Linked DNA regions of Homo sapiens: region 2 is linked to region 1. The links come from fine-mapping of genetic effects on gene expression. A gene starts in region 1. The other region holds a variant in brackets. All regions are shown on one strand. Distances are between the middles of the regions. Region 1 holds the start of THY1 (Thy-1 cell surface antigen). Region 2 overlaps USP2-AS1 (USP2 antisense RNA 1).

Region 1 (5,372 bases):
CTCCTTTGCAGACCCCAGCCTCCCTCCCCACTCTGCTTGAGCCTTGGATCCTATCAATGTGTTTCAAGGACAGGAGATCTTAGGGAGTTGATGCTGGTTCCGGGTTCTCAGTTGGGGATTCTAGTTCAATAGTGTGAAGGAGGGCTCAGCAAACTGTGTTTTCAAAAACCACCTCAGGCCGTCAGAATATCAGCGCGGTGGATTGGCTGACTTCAGGATGAAAAAGAGCCCTCTCTTTGTCACCTGCGCTTTTCTGAGACTGTGAGGGAGAAGCTGCTTCTCTGGAGGGAAGGAAGCCAGGGCGCCTGGAGCCCCAGTCCTGCCCCATGCCGGGTACCTGTTAGCAGGAGAGCGATGCTGATGGCCAGGTTCATGGTTCTGGGATCTCAGTCCTGGATCTGGGGTGGGAACAGGATGGGAATCAGCCAAGCTGTGCCACACTTACCACCAGGGCTGGGGGTCCCTGGGAACATGGCATAGTGGCTATGGCAGTCATCTAAGTCCCTCTCTCCATTCCCCCTCTCGTCCCTGCATCTCACTGAACATGATACTGCCACTGGCTCTTTCCTGCTCAGGGAAAGCAAGGAAGGAGGGAGAACAAGCCCAGTCACGGTGTGTTTCTGCGCTTGGCCATGGAGCACTTACTAGCTGGGTGACTTTAAGTAACTTTACCACTCTTTCTCCTCTTCTTACATTAACATAGTGTATGGTAATATAAGACCTATGAGGGCTGAGGCTTCGTATTTAAAAAAAAAATTTAATCGTGGTAAAATACAAAAAGCATAATAATTACTATTTTAACCATTTAAATTCAGTACTTAAATTCAGTATATTCAGCAGTGCTGGATACATTCACGTTGCTATGCAGCCCATCTCCGGAACTCTTTTTGTCTTTCAAAGTAAAACTCTGTATCTGTTAAACAAAGACTCCCCATTTAGGGACTTCCCATTTCCTGTTCAGAAGAAAATCCCCAATGCTCAAAACCGTTTCCGTTTGCAGATTACTGGCATATAGCATACACTCCAAAGATATTTATTGTGAATGAATGAATGAATCTCTCTGAATCTTACATACCCACCGGGTTATGATGGGGGTTAAGAAAAACAACCAACATCTGGCGATGACTGCTTCATATACGTGAGACACAAATCCCTAAGTCACTCGCCATCCCCAGTGGATGGCTAGATACCATTCACCATAGCTAAGGATGCTCCCAGATAGGGAGCATCTATTCCTATCTGGATAGGACACAAGCTAATCGTGTTCCTGGAGGAGAGAAAGACATAGTGATCTCCGATTGTATGTGAGCCAAGGATGCTTCCCAATGTCCAGCTCTCTGGAGTTCCTGGGACTGCAGTTTTCCAGCCCAGTTTCAATAGCCACCCTGGATAGGCTGTCTGCCTGGTCTTTTTTTGTTTTTTGCAGCCTTGGCTGAACCAACCCTTGGCGAGGCGACGCGGAGCCGGTAGTCTAGCCTATCTGCAGAGCAGTGCTCGCCCAGGAGAGGCCACAGAAGGGGCGTGCACCCGCGAGAGCGCGCAGGGCATTGCCTCGGTTGAGTGCGCCCGGGTGCGCAGGGCGCACCACTAGACGAGTTCAGGGTCCCTGGCGCTCAGCCCCTTGACGGGTGAGGCTAGGATCCCGCGGCGGCTGCAGCTACAATCAATGCTCTCTCTGTCCCGGGGTGGAGCTGCTGCCCTGAGCCAGATCCAGGAGGAAGGGGGGTCGGCATCTGGCTTTTGAATCGAGGACTCTTGTTTGAGATGTTGTGCGGGCTTGGGATCTAGGAGGGGAAGGGGGAGCAATGGCCAGAGCAAGAAAGGGAAGAAATGGGTCTGGGGCTGGAGAGGGTAGAAGAGCCAGGGGAGGGGTGGAGAGCGGCTGGGGAGGTGCAGTCTGTATTCATTTCCTCTGGTCTGTGTCCTCAGGCGGCTCCAGACCCAGAGAAGGTCTGCTCTTCCTCCCTCTCAAGCCCCCGGCGGGCCTCATCCTTAATCCATTTCCGTATTCCAATCCTCTCCTTTCCCAAATGAGTCCCCCTTCCCCCTCTCTCATCCTTTTCCAGCTCTCCCCTCCCCCGTCCGCCCGCCTTCCACCCAGTCCCCGCCTGCGGCACTGCGGCTTCCTTCTCCTCCGGTGCCCCGCACCCAGCCCGCCGCGAGGTCACCCGGCAGATTCCCTCTAGCTCGCCATCCTCCATCCTCTCCCCGCAGTTTCATCCGTCCTCCTCCCCGCCTCTGCGAGCTGGGTTTGGGGACGTCTGGGTGGAATGTAGACCCACAGGCTGTCCTTGGTGCCCTTCCTCCCTGTTCTCCAGCGCCCCAGCCCCAGACACCAGTCCCCCAGCGGGCGAAAGCCCGGGAGCGCCTTCCCCGAAAGACATCAGGGTGCCACGCGGCCCCTGCCCTGCAGAAGCATCCCCCTCCCGCCCCTGCCTGGAAAGCAGGCCCCTCCCTAAGCTCTGCGCCCTTCTTCCCTGGGCGCCCTCGGACCGTGGCCCGAAGCCTAGTGTTGGGAAGTCTTGCATGGGCGCCTGACGGCGGTCCCCGAGCCCCAGGTCCCACCGGCTCCAGTTCCCACCTGGACTGGGGTCTTCCGCTGCTGCAGCCTCCTCCAGACGCGCCGCCGCCTCCGGTTGCTGCACCCAGCTCGGAGCCCGCAGTTTTCACCGGGGATGGAGGAGAGGGGGAGCGGGGAGCCGGGGGCTCAGCCAATCAGAGGCGGAGATTGGGGGAGAAAGGACGGCAGGGTGGGGTGGGGGGTGGGGAAGGAAGAGAAGGCGGTCCCGCATTGGTGTGAGAGTGGCAGGTTGCGGCGGAAGGGGGCCCTCACCCTGTGGCTGGCAGGCCTGGCCAGGGACGGGAGGGTTCGGGACCCCGGGGATCAGGGTGCGGCAGCCCAAAGAACATTATCCTCCTCCCTGAGCCCCGCAATGGTTGTTCCCCTTTTAAGGCTTTAACCCTTTCTTCTGACCTATTCTTCAGGAGTCTGTGGGAAAACCAAAGTGTAAGAGGTGCAGGATGCAGGCCGGGAGCGCCCACGCCTCCACATTTCCTTTTCAGCTGGAGCCCACCTCCTCCGGAGCCTCCAGTGAGAAGTTTTGGAATATTCCAGTCTTTCTGAAAGGAAGCTGGTTGGGTGTTTTTCAGTGTTGGAGCAGCCCTTCGGAAGCGAGGCAGGTGCTGGACCCACCCTGTCCGTCCCTGGTCCCCAGCCCCATTTCGCCCCCTCATCTATTCCAGAGCACCCAGCCCTTCAGGGGGCTGCAGGCGCTTTTTGCTCTGGGCATTACGTCTTCTTCAGCCCCTGGGCTGGCACCTTCTGGTCCAGACAGCTGGAAGGTTCTTCTGGCTTTCCTGAGTACAGTCTGCTTGTTTGGTCTTCAGACCAGGAAGGGAGTGTTGCCTTTTAGCAGGCACTGTGCTGGGCACATTACATTCATGGCGACCTTTAACCCATGGCCGCCTGCTGGGTTCATCCCATCTCAATCCTCACCTCCTGTCTTGGCTGGTAAGTGGGAGAGCTGGAGAACTGACCTGGGCTATGGACCCCAGCTCTCAAGGGTGAGCCATTCCTCTTGCTCATCCCTGCCTAGTGGGAGAAGAGAGAGAGGAACTCTGGGAAAGAGGAGGAGACAGCACAAAAAGGACTGAGTCGAGGCCAACTCCTGATCACCTGGGGCACTCCTGATAACCCACCGATTGGATGTCACCAGAAGCCCTAGGCTCATTTTTAGAGACAGTGCTGATGACTTTCTCTCACTCACAGGTGTAGTGAATTTTTTTGAACTAACGTTTATTTGATTGATTTGTATCCTGCCAGCCTCTTTATGAATTCTGATCACGACATTCTGTGGGCCTCCCCAATGTCTGCCTGCCTGTTCTCCTATTTCTTCATGGAAGTCAGCCCTGGCACCTTCCCTGCAGTTTCTGATACTGCAGTGGCACTGTTGGAAGCCACTGTTGGAAGCTTGCAAGTGGGAGGAGATTCGCTTGGTTTCCCAGCATTTAGGGTGATGGAACACTCTAACTGGAATGAGCCTTGCAGATGGTTAAGTCCAAAGGAGCTATTCACTTTGGTAAACTGCAGAGGTTTCTAGGGCATTTTATGAAAAATGCAGCTGGCCTTGCCCACCTAGGACCTCCTTAATCTAGTACTAGAGCCAGCTGAGTCTGCACTTTTCTCACGCTCCCCAGGATCTGGGGACTCTAACACATGATCTGGTAAGACTGTCCCTCTTCATAGGTGAGCTAACCTGGCTTCTTGTTTGTAGGATACTTTTTAAGGCCATGAATGTCCTGGCCCCTGGCTGCTGACTTCCCTCCTCCCTCCAACTCCATCCCAGCCATCTTCCCATTCATCTACCTGATGCATTCCAGACACACTGGCTCTGGCTTCTGTCTGCCTCTTCATGGCAGCGCACTCCTTCCTGCTTAACAGCTTTCTGATTCTGAGTCCAGGGATCTTAACTGCAGAAGGCATCTGGGCTCTGCTGGCTGAGGCCCTGGATGCTCCGTTTCCCACTCTTTGGCCCTGTCTCTGAGTGTTGCTGGGTGGAAGGCCTAGCAGTGCTATTTTGATAAGGTTATGAGGACCTGGCCTAATTTCTGGGTCCCCAAGCACCTTGCTTTTAGGCAGGGGAGGGGAGTATAGACTGTAGAAGGTGTGGCAATTCTGTGTCTGCCAAGCAAGATCTCTGATTGGATGGAATTAATGGCTCTGATTAGACATCTGAGGTCAGGGGATAGAGCACAAGGTGGTGGAGGGAGGAGATTTTAAAACTCCATTTACTGTGGATAGGATCGGAGTGCTGAAACCAGCAAGGCTTTAGAGGAATCCAGCTAAGGCAAGACTTCCTGCCAGAAGACTGCGGCTGCCCTGTTGGTCTCTTAGATCTCTCTTTTCCCACCATCTCCTGTTTTCCCACCCAGAAACATATGGGGATAAAAACTCTTCTAAAAACACACAGTCCTTTAGCATGACCTAGGGACTGCCAGCCATTCCCTCATTTCATCAGATTGTCTTTCTAGAATCACAGAGGTGACTACAGTGGTCCCATCTTTTAAATTTTATTTTATTTTATTTTTGAGCCAGGGTCTCACTCTGTTGCCTAGGCTAGAGTGCAGTGGTGCAATCACCACTCACTGAAGCTTTGACCTCCTGGGCTCAAGTGATCCTCCTACCTCAGCCTCCTGAGTAGCTGGGACAATAGGCACTTGACACTATGCCCAGCTAATTAATTTTTTTTTTTTTTTTTTGTAGAGATGGGATCTCACCATGTTGCCCAGGCTGATCTTGAACTCCTGGGCTCAAGTAATCCTCCCGCCTGGCCTCTCAAAATGCTGGGATTACAGGTGGGAGCCACTGCACC
Region 2 (5,372 bases), 55 kb after region 1:
TATACATTTGTTGGCTGGTTGGCTAGATGGATATATGGATGGATGGGTGAAGGGAGGGAGGGAGAGAGGGATGGGTATATGGGTGGATAGATGGGTGGGTAGATAAGTAGATGGATGATGGATGGATGGATATATAGATGAATAGATGGATGGTGGGTGGGTGGGTGGAAAGATGGGTAGGTAGACGAATAGATGGATGAATGATGGATAGTGGGTGGGTGGAAAGATGGGTAGGTAGATGAATAGATGGATGAATGATGGATAATGGATGGATATATAGATGGATGGATATATAGGTGGATGAGTGGGTGGATGAGTGGGTGGATATACGGATGGATGGATGGGTGGATGGGTGGATGGTTGGATAAATGAATGGATAGATGGATGGATGAGTGGATGGATGGTTGGGTGGGTGGCTGGACATGTGGCTGAGTAGATGAATGGATGGATGGATATATGGATGGATGGATGGATAGATGGAAGCTTGAATTCCCAAATTTCTATGCCATGGAAGTCACAGGGGGACCAAGGAAGTGGGCAGAGTTGCCTCTGAACTGGCCAGGTGAGCTGGTCTGTGGAGATGTTGCTCTGCTCCAGGTTCTGCAAATGAACAGAGGGGCTTTGATGACCCTCAGCCTGAAAACTTGAACTTGTGAGTAGCTCTCAGGGGACTTAGAGCTACAAGAGCTTGGGGGTTTCTGCAGGTAAAGCGAAGGACTGAAGGGTCAGCTGTGGGGACTTCCTGTTTCAGGGTGAGCACCTAGCTGTGTCTAGGGTGGAAGTAGCCAAGGTGGCTGGGAGTGGATGAGCTGGAGGAAGGGTAGCCAGATCCAGGCCTCAGGGATGGGCTGTCTGGGCTCACCCTTCTGCAGCTTGAACCCCAAGGAGTGGGGCCAGGTTCTGGGAGAGGGATGGGGCAGCTGCAAGGCTTGAGTCCAGCTCAGTCAAGGGCAGACAGGAGTTGAGGCCAACCTGGGAGGAACCCTTCCCAACACAAACCGTTACCAGCAGCTGGACCTGGACAGCCAGGGCGGTAGTGGTCTGACCCAGAGCAGGAGTCTGATCCAGCAGGAGCAGGAGCTCAGTGGCAGCCTCTGTTCTATCCCCATGGGCTGCTCTCCACTCAGTACTCCGGAAGGCTCCTGAGCAAACTTGCTGCCTTGTTTGGACTGCTCTGAAGGGGAAAGGATCTGCTCATCCCTGGGCGGGAGAGAGGGTGGTGCACGCCACAGTTAATTCAACAGACACTTGCTGAGCACTCACTGGCTGCCAGGCGTGTGTCAGCGCGGGGGGTCTGTGTTGAGGATGCCACAGTCTTGCCCTGGAGAGTACCTGACCCTAGCAGACGTCAGGTGACCCAGAGCCACAGAAGAGCAGAGGAAGGAATGAAGAGGGCGGGACTGTGGCTTCGCAGGGGCACGGCTTGCAGAGGTCAGTGTGCCGATTCTGCAGCCTCACTGTGCAGGTTCCACTTACAGATAGATGGTAGTAGCATCACGGGCAAATTACTTGGCCTTTTGTGACTCCTATTTGTTTGTTTGTGTTTTTGAAATCTACAATGCAGGATAGTAAAGTAATAGTGTGGAACCCATAGAACTGTTGTGAGTTCATTCATGAGAAGTGTTCAGAATGGTGCCTGGTACACAGCAAGCATTATATAAACCCATGCTATTAGCATTACGGAGCTACCTCTCTCCGCTTTGGTTCTACTGGATTGATCAGACACCTTCTTCCCCAGGGAGGTAGCTGGAGGGGAGCAGTGGTGGTGTGAGGGGAGGAGAAAAAGTGGAGGTTTGGGTGCTGCAAGTGTTCCTGCTTTTCTGAACCTCATCCCTTGTCTGGGGGTGAAGAGAGGTGGGCAAAGGGAAAGCCCAGGTGTCAGGACCCGCCATGATCTCCAGGGACCAATGCACAGCATTGTCTGGGCTAGGGAGGATGCTGGCCTTCCAGGGTCCTCTAGTCCAGAGAGGGAAAGAAGCGCAAGAGGGCACAATGAGCTCTTTCCTTTTTATTTTATTTTATTTTATTTTATTTTATTTTTTAGAAAGGGTCTCCTTCTGTTGCCCAGGTTGGAATGCAGTGGTGTGATCACAGCTCACAGCAGCCTCAAACTCTTGGGTTCAAGCGATCCTCCTGCCTCAGCCTCCCAAAGTGCTGGGATTACAGGCATGTGCCACTGAGCTCAGCCTTCTTTCCTGTTTAAATTTCCAAAGCATATATGCTCCATGTTACATGTTCAAAAAGCATAGTTCAAAAAACATAAAAAGCACAAAATGAAAGCCTCCCTCTGAAATCCCTTCTGCCTCATCAACCCCCTCAACCCTTCCTGCAAAACCTAGTTCTTGAGATTAAACACCATTAATAATTTAGAGTGCATCCTTTCCAGGCCTTATGTATATTTTAATAATCTAAACACACACATGCATACATACCATTTTGTATAAAAAGAAAGGAAAGAAAATTATATAATATTACACACATTATTCTGCAACCTGATTTTCCACCCATGATATGCCATGGAAATCCTTTCATGTTAGTACGTCTGGACCACTTCATGGCTTTTACTGCTTCAGAGTATTCTATCGTGTGGATGTATTATAATTTTTAAAAACCACTTACCCAGTAATGGACACTTAGGTGGTTTCCCATCTTTTGAGATTGCTAACAATTCTGCTGTGAGCATCCCTGCATATGCAGCTGTGTCTGCATGCAAGTGTTTCTGAGACTGAATTCCCCAAGAGGAATTGCAGAGTGACAGGGAATGTGCATTTTAAAAGGTGATGGGTAGTAGGTAGGCATATTTTTAGGGTTTGTATCAAACTCCCATGGGAACCCCTGTATGTCCAGAGAGTGGGCGAACCGTGTTATGTGGGGAGCACAATGCTGGTGACCCAGGTCTCCACACTCTCAGGCTGTTGGGCCCACTTGACATGGGACCACTGCCCCCTGCCTCCCAGCACCTTTGCTTCCTTCCCGTGGGCCTGATGCTGCCTGGGAATCCTCCTGAATCTCCATAGCCCATTCATTTCCTCTTGCGGTGACATATCTGTTCTGTCCCTGTGCTCTTCCCTGGAGCCTCCATTTCTACTCTCAGCTGATGATGTCACTTCCTGTCTCACTGAGAAAATAGAAGCCACTGGGAGAGAATGTCCATGGTCCCCACCCCCACACCACACACCTGCTTGCATCTGCCTGGGTCTTCTGCTTCCTTCCTGGGCTGAGGCAACCCCTCCACTCTGTATGACCAGATCTTCAAAAAAATACTATTATTGAGATATAACTCATACTCCATGAAATTAACCCCTTTAAAGTGTACAATTTAGTGCTTTTTAGCGTGTTCACAGAGT[T/G]GTGTAACATTTACCGCCACCTAATTCCAGAACATTTTCATCCCCACGGGAAACCCCGTTCCTATTAGCAGTCAGTCCTCATTCCCCCTCCCTGGTCCCTGGAGACCACCGATCTATGCTGTCTCTGAAGAAATCTAGTCTCTCCAGACTCACCTGTTCTAGACATTTCATATAAATGGAGTCACACACCATGTGGTCTTTCGCTACTGGCTTCTTTCACTTGGCATTTTGTACTCACGGCTCATCCATGTTGTAGCCTGTATCAGAACTTTGTTCTTTTTTATGGCTGAATAATATTCCATTGGTCAGTTGATAGACATTGGTGTCGTTTCTACTTTTTGGCTCTTACAGACAATGTTGTTATGAATATTTGTGTGCATGTTTTTGTGTGGTTGTATGTTTCTGGTTCTCTTAGGTACATACTTAGGAGTAGAATTGCTGGGTCATATGGTAACTGCAGGTTTAACTTTTAGAAGAACTGCCAAACTGTTATCCAAAGTGGCTGTATCATTTTACATTCCCACCAGCAGGGCCTGGGGGTTCCAGTTTCTCCCCATTCTTGTGATTGCCTGGTGTTCCATTCTAGCCCTCTGGCGGCTGTGAAGTGCATCTCCTCTGGAAGCACAGTCAGATCTTCTCATCTGCTTGAGGACAGCACTCTCATATTTCTCCCTGACCTCTCCTTCAATACGTTTTTCCCTTTGTACCCCAATCACCCGTCAGCATGGAGGCAAGCTCGTATTTTTTCCCGCCTTGAAAAAACTCTCTTGACTCACGGCCCCTCCAGCTAGCTCCCCATCTCTCTTCTCTCTTTTACAGCAAAATCCCACAAAAGAATTGTCTCAACTTGTCTCTGATTTCTCTCTTTTCATTCTCCTTTGAACATACTCTTGTCAGACTTTTGTCCCCACTCTGACCACAATCAAGGTCACCAGTGACCTCTACATTGCTAACCCCAGGGGACCTTTCTCAGCCCTGACTTAAGGATCAGTGGCTTTTTACGTGGTTGGTCGCTTCCTCCTCTTTTCTGACTTGGGTTCCTGGGAGCCCCCCTTCCTGGTGTCCTCTCTTTCGCTGGCTCCTCCTTCTCATTCTCCCCAATTCCTCAACATCTTCCTGATCTGGAAATGTCAGAGGGCCCTGGGGCTCTCTCCTTGGTCCCTTCGCTCTGCTTTCAGAGTGTCTGATATCTCATCCGGTCTCACTCTGAATGTCACCCAAGTGCTGATGACTTGCGGATTGTAGCTCTAGGCAGGGCCTCTCCTCTGAGCTCCACACTCATTTATCAACAGCCCCCGTGACATTTCACCTGACAACTCTGACCGTCAATTCCCAAACGGAACTCCTGACTTCTCCCATTGAGCCTCAGCAAAAGACAGTACTGGGACAGCTTCTTTCTCTACCTAAGGCCAAGGCCTTGGCATCGTCCTTGACTCCTTTCTCTCTTACACCTGGGAGAATCCTGCCATTTTCACCTCCCCACTGTCTTTGCTACCCCAGGGCCAAGGTGCTTGGAGGTTGCAGTGGACTCCTAACTGATGTCTGTTTCCACCCTTGACCCCACGGTCTGTTCTCAACACAGTGCCCAGAGAGATCCTCTTAAAACACAAGCTAGTTACGCCATCCCCCTGCTCAGAGCCCGGCCATGAAGCCCCATGTCATGGAGGCAAAGCCCTCGCCATGGCCCACAGGGTCCTTCAGGGTCTGCCCCCACCCCTGCCCTCTCCAGCCTCCACATAATCCTCAGGGCCTTTTTCTGTTCTTCAGACCCTCCAGGCAGGCCTCGGGCCTTCGCGCTTGCTGTGCCTGCTCTCTGGGATGCCCTAGCTCAGAAGTCTGCTCAACTCTCTCCTCGTCTCCTCCCAGGCTTTACGCAAATGTCACTGCCTGGGTGAGACCGTGTCTGGCCACTTTGTGTAAAACCACAGCCTCCCTGACACTACTCACCGCTTCCGGCTTTATTTTTCTCCTGGGTGCTCATCCCTCTAATACACCGTCTGTTTTACGTGTTGACCTTACTTATGC

What was found. PIP is the estimated chance that this variant, and not a neighbour inherited with it, causes the effect.
Region 2: its variant is fine-mapped to the expression of THY1 in thyroid (GTEx, PIP 0.97).

Annotation. Positions count from the first base shown.
Region 1 is chr11:119,420,532-119,425,903 of GRCh38, forward strand. It overlaps THY1 (Thy-1 cell surface antigen), which reads right to left and starts at 2,641. Exons shown (of 4, transcript NM_006288.5): 1 at 2,582-2,641; 2 at 338-398. The coding sequence starts at 374. The region is part of intron 2 of USP2-AS1 (USP2 antisense RNA 1); the gene reads left to right. RefSeq lists enhancers at 1,387-1,953, 1,954-2,519.
Region 2 is chr11:119,475,959-119,481,330 of GRCh38, forward strand. The region is part of intron 3 of USP2-AS1 (USP2 antisense RNA 1); the gene reads left to right. Among named protein-coding and RNA genes, the nearest start is that of THY1, 55 kb to the left of the region's middle. RefSeq lists enhancers at 654-1,155, 1,156-1,655. The variant T/G (reference allele first, on the strand shown) is at 3,348.